2 separate regions of the Homo sapiens genome follow, and region 1 is linked to region 2. The links come from fine-mapping of genetic effects on gene expression. A gene starts in region 2. The other region holds a variant in brackets. All regions are shown on one strand. Distances are from middle to middle.

Region 1 (5,374 bases), 29 kb after region 2:
GTGCAGCCCAGGGCAGTGACAGAGCTGCTGCCACCCTGCGGCCGTGCCCCTCTGACTTGGGGGTTTGTACTGGAGGGGTGGCTTGCCCAGTCGTGGCACTCCGGTGGGACTGAGGCTGAACTTGCTTTGGCGTGGTGGGTCAGCTGGCTCTGGGCCCTCAGCTCCCCCGGGCGAGGCAGCCCTGCTTGTTGTCTCCACATCTCCTCTTCCCTCCGTTTCCGTGGCCCCTGGTTGGAGGGTGGTGCTCACCCATCCTGGGGGCTTTGCCCTCCTCCAGCCCCTCCCCAAGGCCAAGCTGCAGCTTCTGCAGGAGACGGGGCTGGGGGCCTGGTGGGGTGTCCTTAGACACCCTGGGGTATGGGACTTTCCAGGAAGATGTGCCACCATCACACCACTGTACCCCAACTTGAGGGAGTGTGCAGTCTGATAAAGACCACCTGGGCTTGCGGGAGAGGAGGTGGGCTTCCCACAGAAGCCAAGAAGCCCACGAGCCTTGCCACCTACTGCCAAGCGCAGGAGAAGGGCGCTGAGGAACAGGGAGGTGGCACCGGGTCCAAAGGCCAGTTTGTGGCCTCCACAGACTGGAGGCTCGATATCCTCCGCTGCTCCGTTGCAGGGGCAAAAAGAGAGTTAAGAGACAAGGAAACAGGTGTGGAGGGATGGAAGTGTGAACCAATGGTATGCAGTTGCTCTTGGGAAATCCTATGTACAGATAGGAAATCTGGACACTGACTCCATATGGGATGACATTTAGGAATTATTAATTTAAAAGCTTTCATTTAAAAATTAACATACAGGGCCGGGCATGGTGGCTCACGCCTGTAATCCCAGCATTTTGGAAGGCTGAGGAGGGCGCATCATTTGAGGTCAGGAGTTTGAGATCAGCCTGGCCAACATGGTGAGACCCCATCTCTACTAAAAATATAAAAATTAGCGAGTATGATGGTGCATGCCTGTAATCCCAGCTACTCGGGAGGCTGAGGCAGAACTGCTTGAACCTGGGAGATGGAGGCTGCAGTGAGCCAAGAGCATGCCACTGTGCTCCATCCTGGGCTTCAGAGTGAGACTCCGTCTCAAAAATAAATAAAATAAAACAAAATTAACGTACAGCAGAACGGACTTTTTTAGTGTGGAGTTCTAGCAATGTTCCTGCCTGTATGGGTTTGTGCGATGCTCCCCTCTGCACACACCATCCACACGCAGCGTGATCCCATCACCCCAGAAAGCCCCTCATGGCGCTCCTCTGCAGGACCAGGCTTCCTGACCCCTGGAAGCCGCCGGTTACTTCTCCATGGCTTGTGTCCTTTTGACAACATTGGACAAATGGAATCATAGCCAGATGTGGTGGCTAGAGCCTGTAATCCCAGCCACTCTGGAGGCTGAGGCGGGAGGATCACTCCAGTCCAGGAGCTGGAGATCAGCCTGGGCAACACAGTGAGACCCTGTCTCAAAAAACTAATCATACATAATAATAAGTAAATGGAATCCTACAGTATGTAATGTTTGAGGCTGGCTTCTTTCTCTCCAACGTGCCTCCAAGGCTCACCCTTTCCACTCGGGAGCGTGATCTGCTGCATGCGTGCCCCGCAGCCTGGCCGCTGCTCACTTGATCAGATCTTGAAGGACGTCTGTGTCATTTCCAGGTTCTGGCTGTCACAAGCAGTCATGCTCTAGACATTTATGTATGGGTTTTCGTGTGAGGACAGGTTTCCGTTTCTCCAGGATAAACACCTGGTAGTGAGAATGCTCAATATTCAGTTTGTAGGTAACTGCCTGGCTGTTGTCCAGAGTGGCCACACTATCTCGCATGGCCACTGTCCCAACGTGTGAGCTCCAGATGCTGCCCGTGCTCGCCCAGAGTGACCAATCACTGCACTTTGTCCGGGTCTGAGGAGTTTCCTGGGATTTGAGACTTTCCATGCAAAAATCAGGAAACTCCTGGACAAACTAGGACATGGGTCACCTTTCTCTTTGATGGTTAATTTTACGTCAGCTCGACTGGGCTGAGGGATGCCTGGATGCTGGGGAGACACTGTTTCTGAGGGTGTCTGTGAAGGGGTTTCTGGAGGAGATGAGCATTTGAGCCTCCTACTTAGTAAACTGGATCTGCCCTCACCATGCAGGCAGCCAGCATCCAATCCACTCAGGGCTCGGGTAGAACAAAAAGGCAAGGGAGGGTGAATTTTCTCTCCGAGCTGGGACCTCCATCTTCTCCTGCCCGCAGCATCAGCCCACCGGTTCCTGGGCCTTCGGACCTGGACTGGGTCAGACTGCTGGCTTTCCTGGTGTGCCAGCTTGCAGACAACACTGTGGGACTTCTCAGCCTCCGTTTGGATGAGTCAATTCCTATAATAAATCTCTCTCTCTCTCTGTCTCCACCCCATATAGATATAGATACAGAGAGACAGATACATAGATAGATACAGATATATCTCCTGTTGGTCAGTTTCTATGGAGAACCCTGACTTATATACTTGTCAACACTTGGTATTATCAGTGGTTTGTTAAATTTTAGCCATTCTAATTGTTGTGTAGTTGGGATCTCATC[G/A]TGGTCTTAGTTTGCGTTTCCCTGGGGGCTAAAGGTGTTGAGCAGCTGTTCATGTGTCTCTTAGCCACTTGTAGGCCTCCTTTGATGGAGTGTCTATTCCAATCTCTTCTCAATTTTTTTCTTATTGGGTTGTTGGTTGTTTTTTTTTTTTTTTTTTCTTTGAGACGGAGTCTCGTTTGTATCACCCAGGCTGGAGTGCAGTGGCTCAATCTCGGCTCACTGCAACCTCTGCCTCCCGGGTTCAAGCAATTCTCCTGTCTCAGCCCCCTGAGTAGCTGGGATTACAGGCACACGCCACCACACCTGGCTAATTTTTGTATTTTTAGTAGAGACAGGGTTTCACCATGTTGGCCAGGCTGGTCTTGAACTCCTGACCTCAGGTGATCCACCTGCCTTGGCCTCCCAAACTGCTGGGACTACAGGCGTGAGCCATCATGCCTGGCCTTGATTTTCTTACTGTTGAGCTTTGGGAGTTCTTTATACATTTTTGAGACATATCCTTTGATGGATATGTGACGTGTCATTTTTTTTCTCCCAGTCTTTAGTTAATTTTAGTTTTTTTGAGACAGAGTCTCACTCTGTCACCCAGGCTGGAGTGCAGTGGCACAATCTCAGCTCACTGCAACCTCTGCCTCCCAGGTTCAACTGATTCTCCTGCCTCAGCCTCCCAAGTAGCTGAGACTACAGGTGCCCGCCACCATGCCTAGCTAATTTTTGTTTTTTTTAGTAGAGATGGGGTTTTATCATGTTGGCCAGGCTGGTCTCGAACTCCTGATCTCAAGTGATCCGCCTGCCTCAGCCTCCCAAAGTGCTAGGGTTACAGGCGTGAGCCACTGCACCTGGACTAGTTTGTCTTTTGTCTTAACAGTGTCTTTCTCAAAACAAAACTTAAAAATGTTCATAAAGTCCAATTTATCACTACTTTTTTATGGTAAAATATACATAATGTAAAATGTACCATGTTAACCATTGTTTTTGAGACGGAGTCTTGCTCTGTCGCCCAGGCTGGATTGCAGTGGTGCCATCTCCGCTCACCCACGTGCCACCACACCCAGTTAATTTTTGTATTTTTAGTAGAGATGAGGTTTCACCTTGTTGGCCAGGCTGGTCTCGAACTCCTGATCTCGTGATCTGCCTGCCTCAGCCTCCCAAAGTGCTGGGATTACAGGTGTAATTACAGTTTGCAGTGGTGCGATCTCCGCTCACCCGCGTGCCACCACACCCAACCTACGTTAACCATTTTTAAGTGTACAGTGGCGTTAAGTAAATTCACAATGTTGTGTCACTATCACCACTATCTAGTTCCCGAACTTTTTCATCACCCCAAACAGAAGCTCTGTACTCATTCAGCAGCATCTGCTGGTCCCCTCCCCACGTAACTTTGATTCCACTTTCTGTTGCTGTGAACTTGCCTATTCCTGCTGCTAGTATAAGTGGAATCGCACAATGTTTGGCCTTTTGTGTTTGGCTTATTTCACTCAGCATGTTTCCAAGGTTCATCTATGCTGTAGCATGCATCTGAGCATTATTAATTATATTACATTATATTATATTGTACGTATGTATTTATTTATTTTGAGATGGAGTCTTGCTTTATCACCCAGGCTGGAGTGGAGTGGTGCCATCTCAGCTCACTGCAACGTCTGCCTCCCGGGTTTGAGCGATTTCACCTGCCTCAGCCTCCCAAGTAGCTAGGACCACAGGCTTGTGCCACCATGCCCGGCTTTTTGTTTGTTTATTTGTTTTTTGAGACAGTATCTCATTCTGTTGCCCAGACTGGAATGACTGCTCACCACAACCTCCACCTCTCAGGCTCAAGAGATTCTCCTGCCTCAGCCTCCCTAGTAGCTGGGATTACAGGCGTGTGCCACCATGTCCAGCTAATTTTTGTGTTTTTAGTAGAGATGGGGTTTCACCATGTTGGCCAGGCTGGTCTCGAACTCCTGTCCTCAAGTGATCTGCCCACCTTTGCCTCCCAAAGTGCTGGGATTACAGGTGTGAGCCACCCGGCCCAGCCTATTATATTTAACTGTGGTAAAGTACACATAACATAAATGTTACCATCTTAACCATTTTTGTACAGTTCAATGGCGTTATGTTTACATTGTTGCGCAACCAGTCTCCAGAAGTCTTTTCATCTTTCAGAACTGAAACCCTTTATCCATTAAAGAACAGCTTCCCAGCCCCCTCCCAGCCCCTCGCAACCACCTTTCTGCTTTTTGTTTCTATGAATTTGACTAGATTTCCTCATATAAAAGGAATCAATCATGCAGCATTTGTCCCTTTGTGACTGGCTTATTTCACTGAGCATAAAGTCCTTTCGGTTTATCCATGTTGTGGTCAGGAATTCTGTCCTTTTAAGGCTAATAATATTCCAGTGCATGGATAGGCCACATTTTATATATCCATTCGTTGATGGACTTCGGGTTTTTCCCCACCTCTTGGCTATTGCGCATAATGCTGCTATGAACATGGAATACAAATATCTCTTTAAAGGGGCCGGGTGCAGTGTCTCATGCCTGTAATCCCAGCACTTTGGGAGGCCAAGGCAGGAGTATTGCTTGAGTCCAGGAGTTTGAGACCAACCTGAGCAACATAGTGAGACCTTATCTCTAATTTAAAAAATAAGAGGCTGGGCCTGTAATCCCAGCACTCTGGGAGGCCGAGGTGGGTGGATCACCTGAGGTCAGGAGGTCGAGACCAGCCTGATCAACATGGAGAAACCCTGTCTCTACCAAAAATTCAAAATTAGCCCAGCGTGGTAGCGCATGCCTGTAATCCCAGCTACTCGGGAGGCTGAGGCAGGAGAATCACTTTTACCCAGGA
Region 2 (5,374 bases):
CACGCTCCCACCTGGGCTGGCTGGGCCGCTGTCCTGGGCCACCCGCACTGCCACGCTCCCACCTGGGCTGGCTGGGCCCCTGTCCTGGGCCACCCGCACTGCCACGCTCCCACCTGGGCTGGCTGGGCCGCTGTCCTGGGCCACCCGCACTGCCACGCTCCCACCTGGGCTGGCTGGGCCCCTGTCCTGGGCCACCCGCACTGCCACGCTCCCACCTGGGCTGGCTGGGCCGCTGTCCTGGGCCACCCTCACTGCCACGCTCCCACCTGGGCTCTTGCTGCCAAGGGGATGTGCTTGGAGGTGGCACTGCATCAGCCCTGCCCCTGGCAGCCGAGGATGGCCCCTACAGGCCCACCGCCCCAGTGCTGCCTGTGGCACCCTTGGCAGCAGCAGCGCACAGGCACGGGGCAGATGGTGCCGAGAATGCCACAGGGCCCTGGGATTGGGAGTCCGCAGCCCGGCCAGTTCTCCAGCCAAAGCAAACAGGGTAATGCTGCTGACCGGACCATCCCAGCTGATAAAGGCTGCTCTGTATCTCATTAATTAAGATCTGGAAGCAGAGCAGAGCCCATGAGAGGCTGGCTGGGGGCGGGGGACGACATGGAAATTCCCAGGACTGACCCGGCAGCTCCCAAACACAGATCTCCGGGGCTGCTGCAGGCTGGCCCCAGACTGAAGGTGGGGACACAACCCGGGCTTCTTCCTGTCTGCACTGCCCAAGGGCAGGGAGACAGCGCTGGCCTCAAGGGACTGACCCTGAGCAGCCGTGAGGGCAGATGCAGGTCTGAGCTGTGTCCCTCTGGGGTCCCCCTAGACATCTGGGACTTCTTCCCAGCCATTCCAGGGGTCTGGCATCATCTTTTCAGAAGGCCACTAAAAGGATCCCCTAGGGTCATTCTCAGAGCCCGACTAGAGGCAGCAGCAGGCGGCGGATCTCATGGAGCCCCACCAACCCCCTAGCTCCCACCCAGAGACCTCTCCCTCCTTCTGAACTTCTCAGATGGGACTCCACCTCCTCCTGGAGGCTCTGTGCTGGTCCCCATGGATTCTGTCTGCACCCCACACACACTCCTGGGCAGGCCAGGTCTACACAGCTTTGCTCTCTGGGCCCAGCCCACCACGTAAGGGCAGGGGCCACCTAGAGCCCATGCCAGCGCCAGCCTGAGAGGAGGCAGCGTGTCCCCTCACGGGGTCGTGCCCTCCGACTCCAACCCCCTGCCTGGAGAGCCACCGATTCAGTTTCACCTATGCTGTCACCTCCCCTTCCCGGGCTCAGCCACAGGCGCCCCATGTGCCCTCTTCGGGCATCACATAAACATTCCCAGGTGACGGCCACAGCCCAGCTGTGGTGAGGGGACTGGACAGTCACAGTGGGGCTGGTCCCTCCCTCTTGGGTCCAGACCTTGGAGACGGTGGGGGCAGCCAGTGGACCGTGTGTGACCCCAGAACCGAGCACCCCCAGATGTCCTCACAGCACCAACGAATACTGAGGTTTTGGCTACCCAGCCCGGTGGGCGCAGTTTCCAATGGGGGGGCCTCGGAGGCCTCGGAATCCAGAGGGCAGCGGGCGGGATCTCGGCCAGTAACAGCAAGAATCTGTTTTCCAAAATAAACATCGGGACACGTGCTCCTACAAAGGGTTTCTGTGCCCAGCTGAGAACAAGGGTCACTGTGGAAGCTTAGCCACCCACTAATAGATTATTCTTTCTGGAGCTTTCTATTGTTTATGGCCAGCATGACTGAAATCTGGGCTGAGCAGGCAGCTGATGGGGGGGCCTGTGGCGTGGGAGGCCTGAGAGGGCAGATCCGGGAGCACCCGCCTGGGTGGCCCTGTCCCGAGCGCCTGGCCGTCCCAGGCAGGGGGTGGGCGCCCCTGGGCCGGACCCCCATCTCGGCCTCGGAGGGAGGCTGCGGCCCAGCAGGGGAGGAGGCGCAGCTGGGGATCCCACCAGGGCGCACTCACCCAGGCGCAGCAGCACCGCGCACACCTCAGCCAGGCGTCCCGGGACCGGCGCGGCACGCTCGGGCGCGCTCCAGGAGAGGCCGGCGCGCAGCAGCCGCGCGTGCACGTACTCCCGGCCCAGCGCCTTGGCCTGGGCCACCAGCTCCTTGTCTGTGGGCGAGCGGTCAAAGGCGTCCATGATCTCGGCGGCGAAGACCGAGGAGCGCCGCAGCACCTCCATGGCGGCGACGCGGGTGGGGGGCGCCGCACCTGCGGGCACAAGCGCTCAGCCGGGTGGAGGGAGGCGGCGCGGGGAACGGGGCGCGCGGGGCGCCGGGCTGGGCGTGGCCCTCGGGAAGGGCCGTAGCCGGCGCCGGGTCCGCTCTCGTTTTTTGTGCCCCAAATCTTTAAAAACCCAGCGCCACCTTCTTTCAGAGCCCGAATTCAGCTACAGACATTCCCCGAGGCTGCCAGGGACCGGTGGGGCCGCGGGGAGACGGCGGTTTGCTCCGGGGCCGCCGGGCCCGCCCTCGAAGACGAGTGCGTGGGCGGCGGGGGCGGAGGGCACAGCCCAGCGCGTCCCCCACGGCGACTGCCAGGACCCGGCCCTCCCCGCCCCGGCCCGGGGCCGCCCACCTCCGCCGCTGGCGTCCTGCGCGCGTGTCCCCGGCCTCGCCGTTCCCGTGGCACCCCGGGCACCCCGGCACGGACGCCACGCCCGCCGCGCTCACCTCTCCCGCCGCATGGCGCGGGCGCCGGGGTGGAGTTCTGGCTTCAGGATCTGCTCGCCGCCGACGACGACCTCGACCCTTCCATTCAGACCCGCGAGGACGCGCGCCCCGCCCCGGCGCCCGCCCCGTCCACGCCCGAGCCGGGAGCGCCAGGTCCACGGGGCTTCCCGCGCTCTTGGGGGGCTCCTGCCGCGGCGTCGGGGGCCTGGGCAGCGAGGTGGGCAGCGCGCGACTCCCAGCTGGCGAGAGGCTGGGCTTGGGGCTTGGCCTTCTAAGGGAAAGGCAACCCTGGGGGCGGAGTCGGGGAGACGCTTTCCGAGCTTCCCCGCTTAAGGAGGACCGAGCGAGTTCCCTGGATGCGCCCGGAGAAGGCGACCAGGCCGGAGCGGCCCCCGCAAGGCAGAGCAGTGGGGACCTAGAGCCAGCCCCAGCCGCCTGGGTGTTCCCCGGGGTCCATTTGAAAATTGGGTTGTCTTCTTCGTTCGTAGAGGTTCTTTCCAGAGTCTGGAGACGTGTTCTTGGTCCGGACGCATGCCCTTTGTATTGTAGATGGATTATTGGATTCGCATTTATTGAAGTTATTGCAAATATCTTCCTCTATTTTGTGGTTTACTTTTGCTTTGGATGAACAGGAGTTACTCTTAGTGATGTCCAATTTATCAATATTTTCTTTATGGTTAGTACCTTTTTATTGGGATATCCTCCTGTATTTCCTTTTAGAAGCTTGTTTTAGGGCTCATATTTAGATCTATGATTGATTACATATTAATTATTGTGAATGGTGTGGTACGGGGCTAGAGCTCATTTTTTTTCGTGTAGATATCCAATTGACCTGGCATCATTTATTGAAAAGCATCATTTTTTTTCCACCGAATTGGAGGAGTCCCCAACATCTCAACATAAATCAGCTGAAGAGTGTGTGTGTGTGTGTGTGTGTGTCTCGGAACTCTATCCCACTGGTTTATTTCTTTATCCTTGAATCAACCTCACACAGTTTGAACAATAGGATTAACCAACTTGGCCTAATTCACGTGTGTACAACACTATAAAATACTTATTCTTCCCATGTGCACATAGGATGTTTATCGAAATAGACCATATCATGGACCTTATACAAGTCTCAGCAAATCTCAACGGATTGAAATCTTACAGTGTGTCCTCTCTGAATTAAAAGTCAATAACAGAAAAATTACTGGAAAATCTGCAAATGCTTGGAAATTACATGTCACACTTCTAAATAATCAATGGGTCAATAATCACAGTGGAAGATTAAAATATGTTGACAAGAACAGTGAAAAATAAGACATATCAAATGCTGTACAGTGCAACTAAAACACTGCTTAGAGGAAATTTGATAGCTTTAGAAGAAGGATTGAAAATTAGGCCAGGTGAAATGACTCAGACCTGTAATCCCAGCATTTTGGGAGGCCTAGGTGGGCAGATCACCTGAGCTCAGGAGTTTGAGACCAGCCGGGTCAAAATGGTGAAAACCCCGTCTCTACTAGAGATACAAAAAATGAGTTGGGTGTGGTGGCAGGTGTCTGTAATCCCAGCTACTAAGGAGGCTGAGGCAGGAGAATTGCTTGAACCTGGGAGGCGAAGGTTGCAGTGAGCAGAGATCATCCCACCTGCACTCCAGCCTGGACAACAGAGTGTGATTCCATCTCAAAAAAAAAAAAAAAAAAGGAAAAAGAAAAATAAAATTACTGCTCTAAGCTTCCACTCAAGAAGCTAGAAAAGAACAATAAAACTAAAGATGAAAGGAAATAATAAAAATAAGAGCAGAAATTAATGGAATAAAGCAAAAAATAGAGAAAATCAACAAAGCCAAAAATTGGTTCTTTGAAGAGATTAATAGAACTGATAAATCCCCAGAAAGATTGAGTAAGAAAAAAGATAACACAAATTTCACTATCAAGAATGAAAAAGAGGACATCACTGTAGATACTACAAGCATTAAAGGGATAAAAAGATAGTATGGAGGACTTTTTGACAGTGCATTTGAAATTTTAGATGATACACAACTTACCAAAACTGACACTAAAAGAAATAGAAAATCTGGATAGTCCTACACCAATTAAATGCATTGAATCTGTAATTTAAAATCTTCCCACAAAGAAAATTCTAGGTTCAGATGGTTTCATTGAGAAATTCTTCTCAACAGTTAAAAAAATACCACCAGTCTCATACAAACCTGCACAGAGACTAAAAATGAGGGAGTATTTCCCAACTCATTTTATGAGGTCAATGTAATTTTAATACCGAAACCTGTCAGGAACATTACCAGAAGCTAGGAAAGCTATGGAACTTCTATCTGCTATGACTTTCCTGTCTGGGAAGTAGGAAGAATAATAATACCTACCTCCTAGGATTGTTGAGAGGACTGAATTCTTTTTTTTTTTTTTTTTTTTTGAGACGGAGTCTCGCTCTGTTGCCAGGCTGGAGTGCAATGGCGTAAACTCGGCTCACTGCAACCCCGCCTCCTGGGCTCCAGCGATTCTCCTGCCTCAGCCTCCCGAGTAGCTGGGACTACAGGCACCTGACACCACGCCCGGCTAATTGTTTGTATTTTTGGTAGAGAGGGGGTTTCACCATGTTGGCCAGGATGGTCTCGATCTCTTGACCTCGTGATCTACCTGCCTTGGCATCACAAAGTTCTGGGATTATAGGCGTAAGCCACAGCGCCCAGCCTGGGAGGACT

The links. PIP is the estimated chance that this variant, and not a neighbour inherited with it, causes the effect. A credible set is the group of variants that fine-mapping cannot tell apart.
Region 1: its variant is the best candidate, but not a certain one, in a credible set for the expression of BOK in subcutaneous fat (TwinsUK, PIP 0.70).

What each region holds. Positions count from the first base shown.
Region 1 is chr2:241,527,571-241,532,944 of GRCh38, reverse strand. No RefSeq gene overlaps it. Among named protein-coding and RNA genes, the nearest start is that of STK25, 22 kb to the right of the region's middle. The variant G/A (reference allele first, on the strand shown) is at 2,549.
Region 2 is chr2:241,556,293-241,561,666 of GRCh38, reverse strand. It overlaps BOK (BCL2 family apoptosis regulator BOK), which reads right to left and starts at 2,922. Exons shown (of 5, transcript NM_032515.5): 1 at 2,674-2,922; 2 at 1,964-2,212. The coding sequence starts at 2,183. It overlaps BOK-AS1 (BOK antisense RNA 1), which reads left to right and starts at 2,524. Exons shown (of 2, transcript NR_033346.1): 1 at 2,524-2,890. RefSeq lists silencers at 1,900-2,029, 2,080-2,149, 2,180-2,259.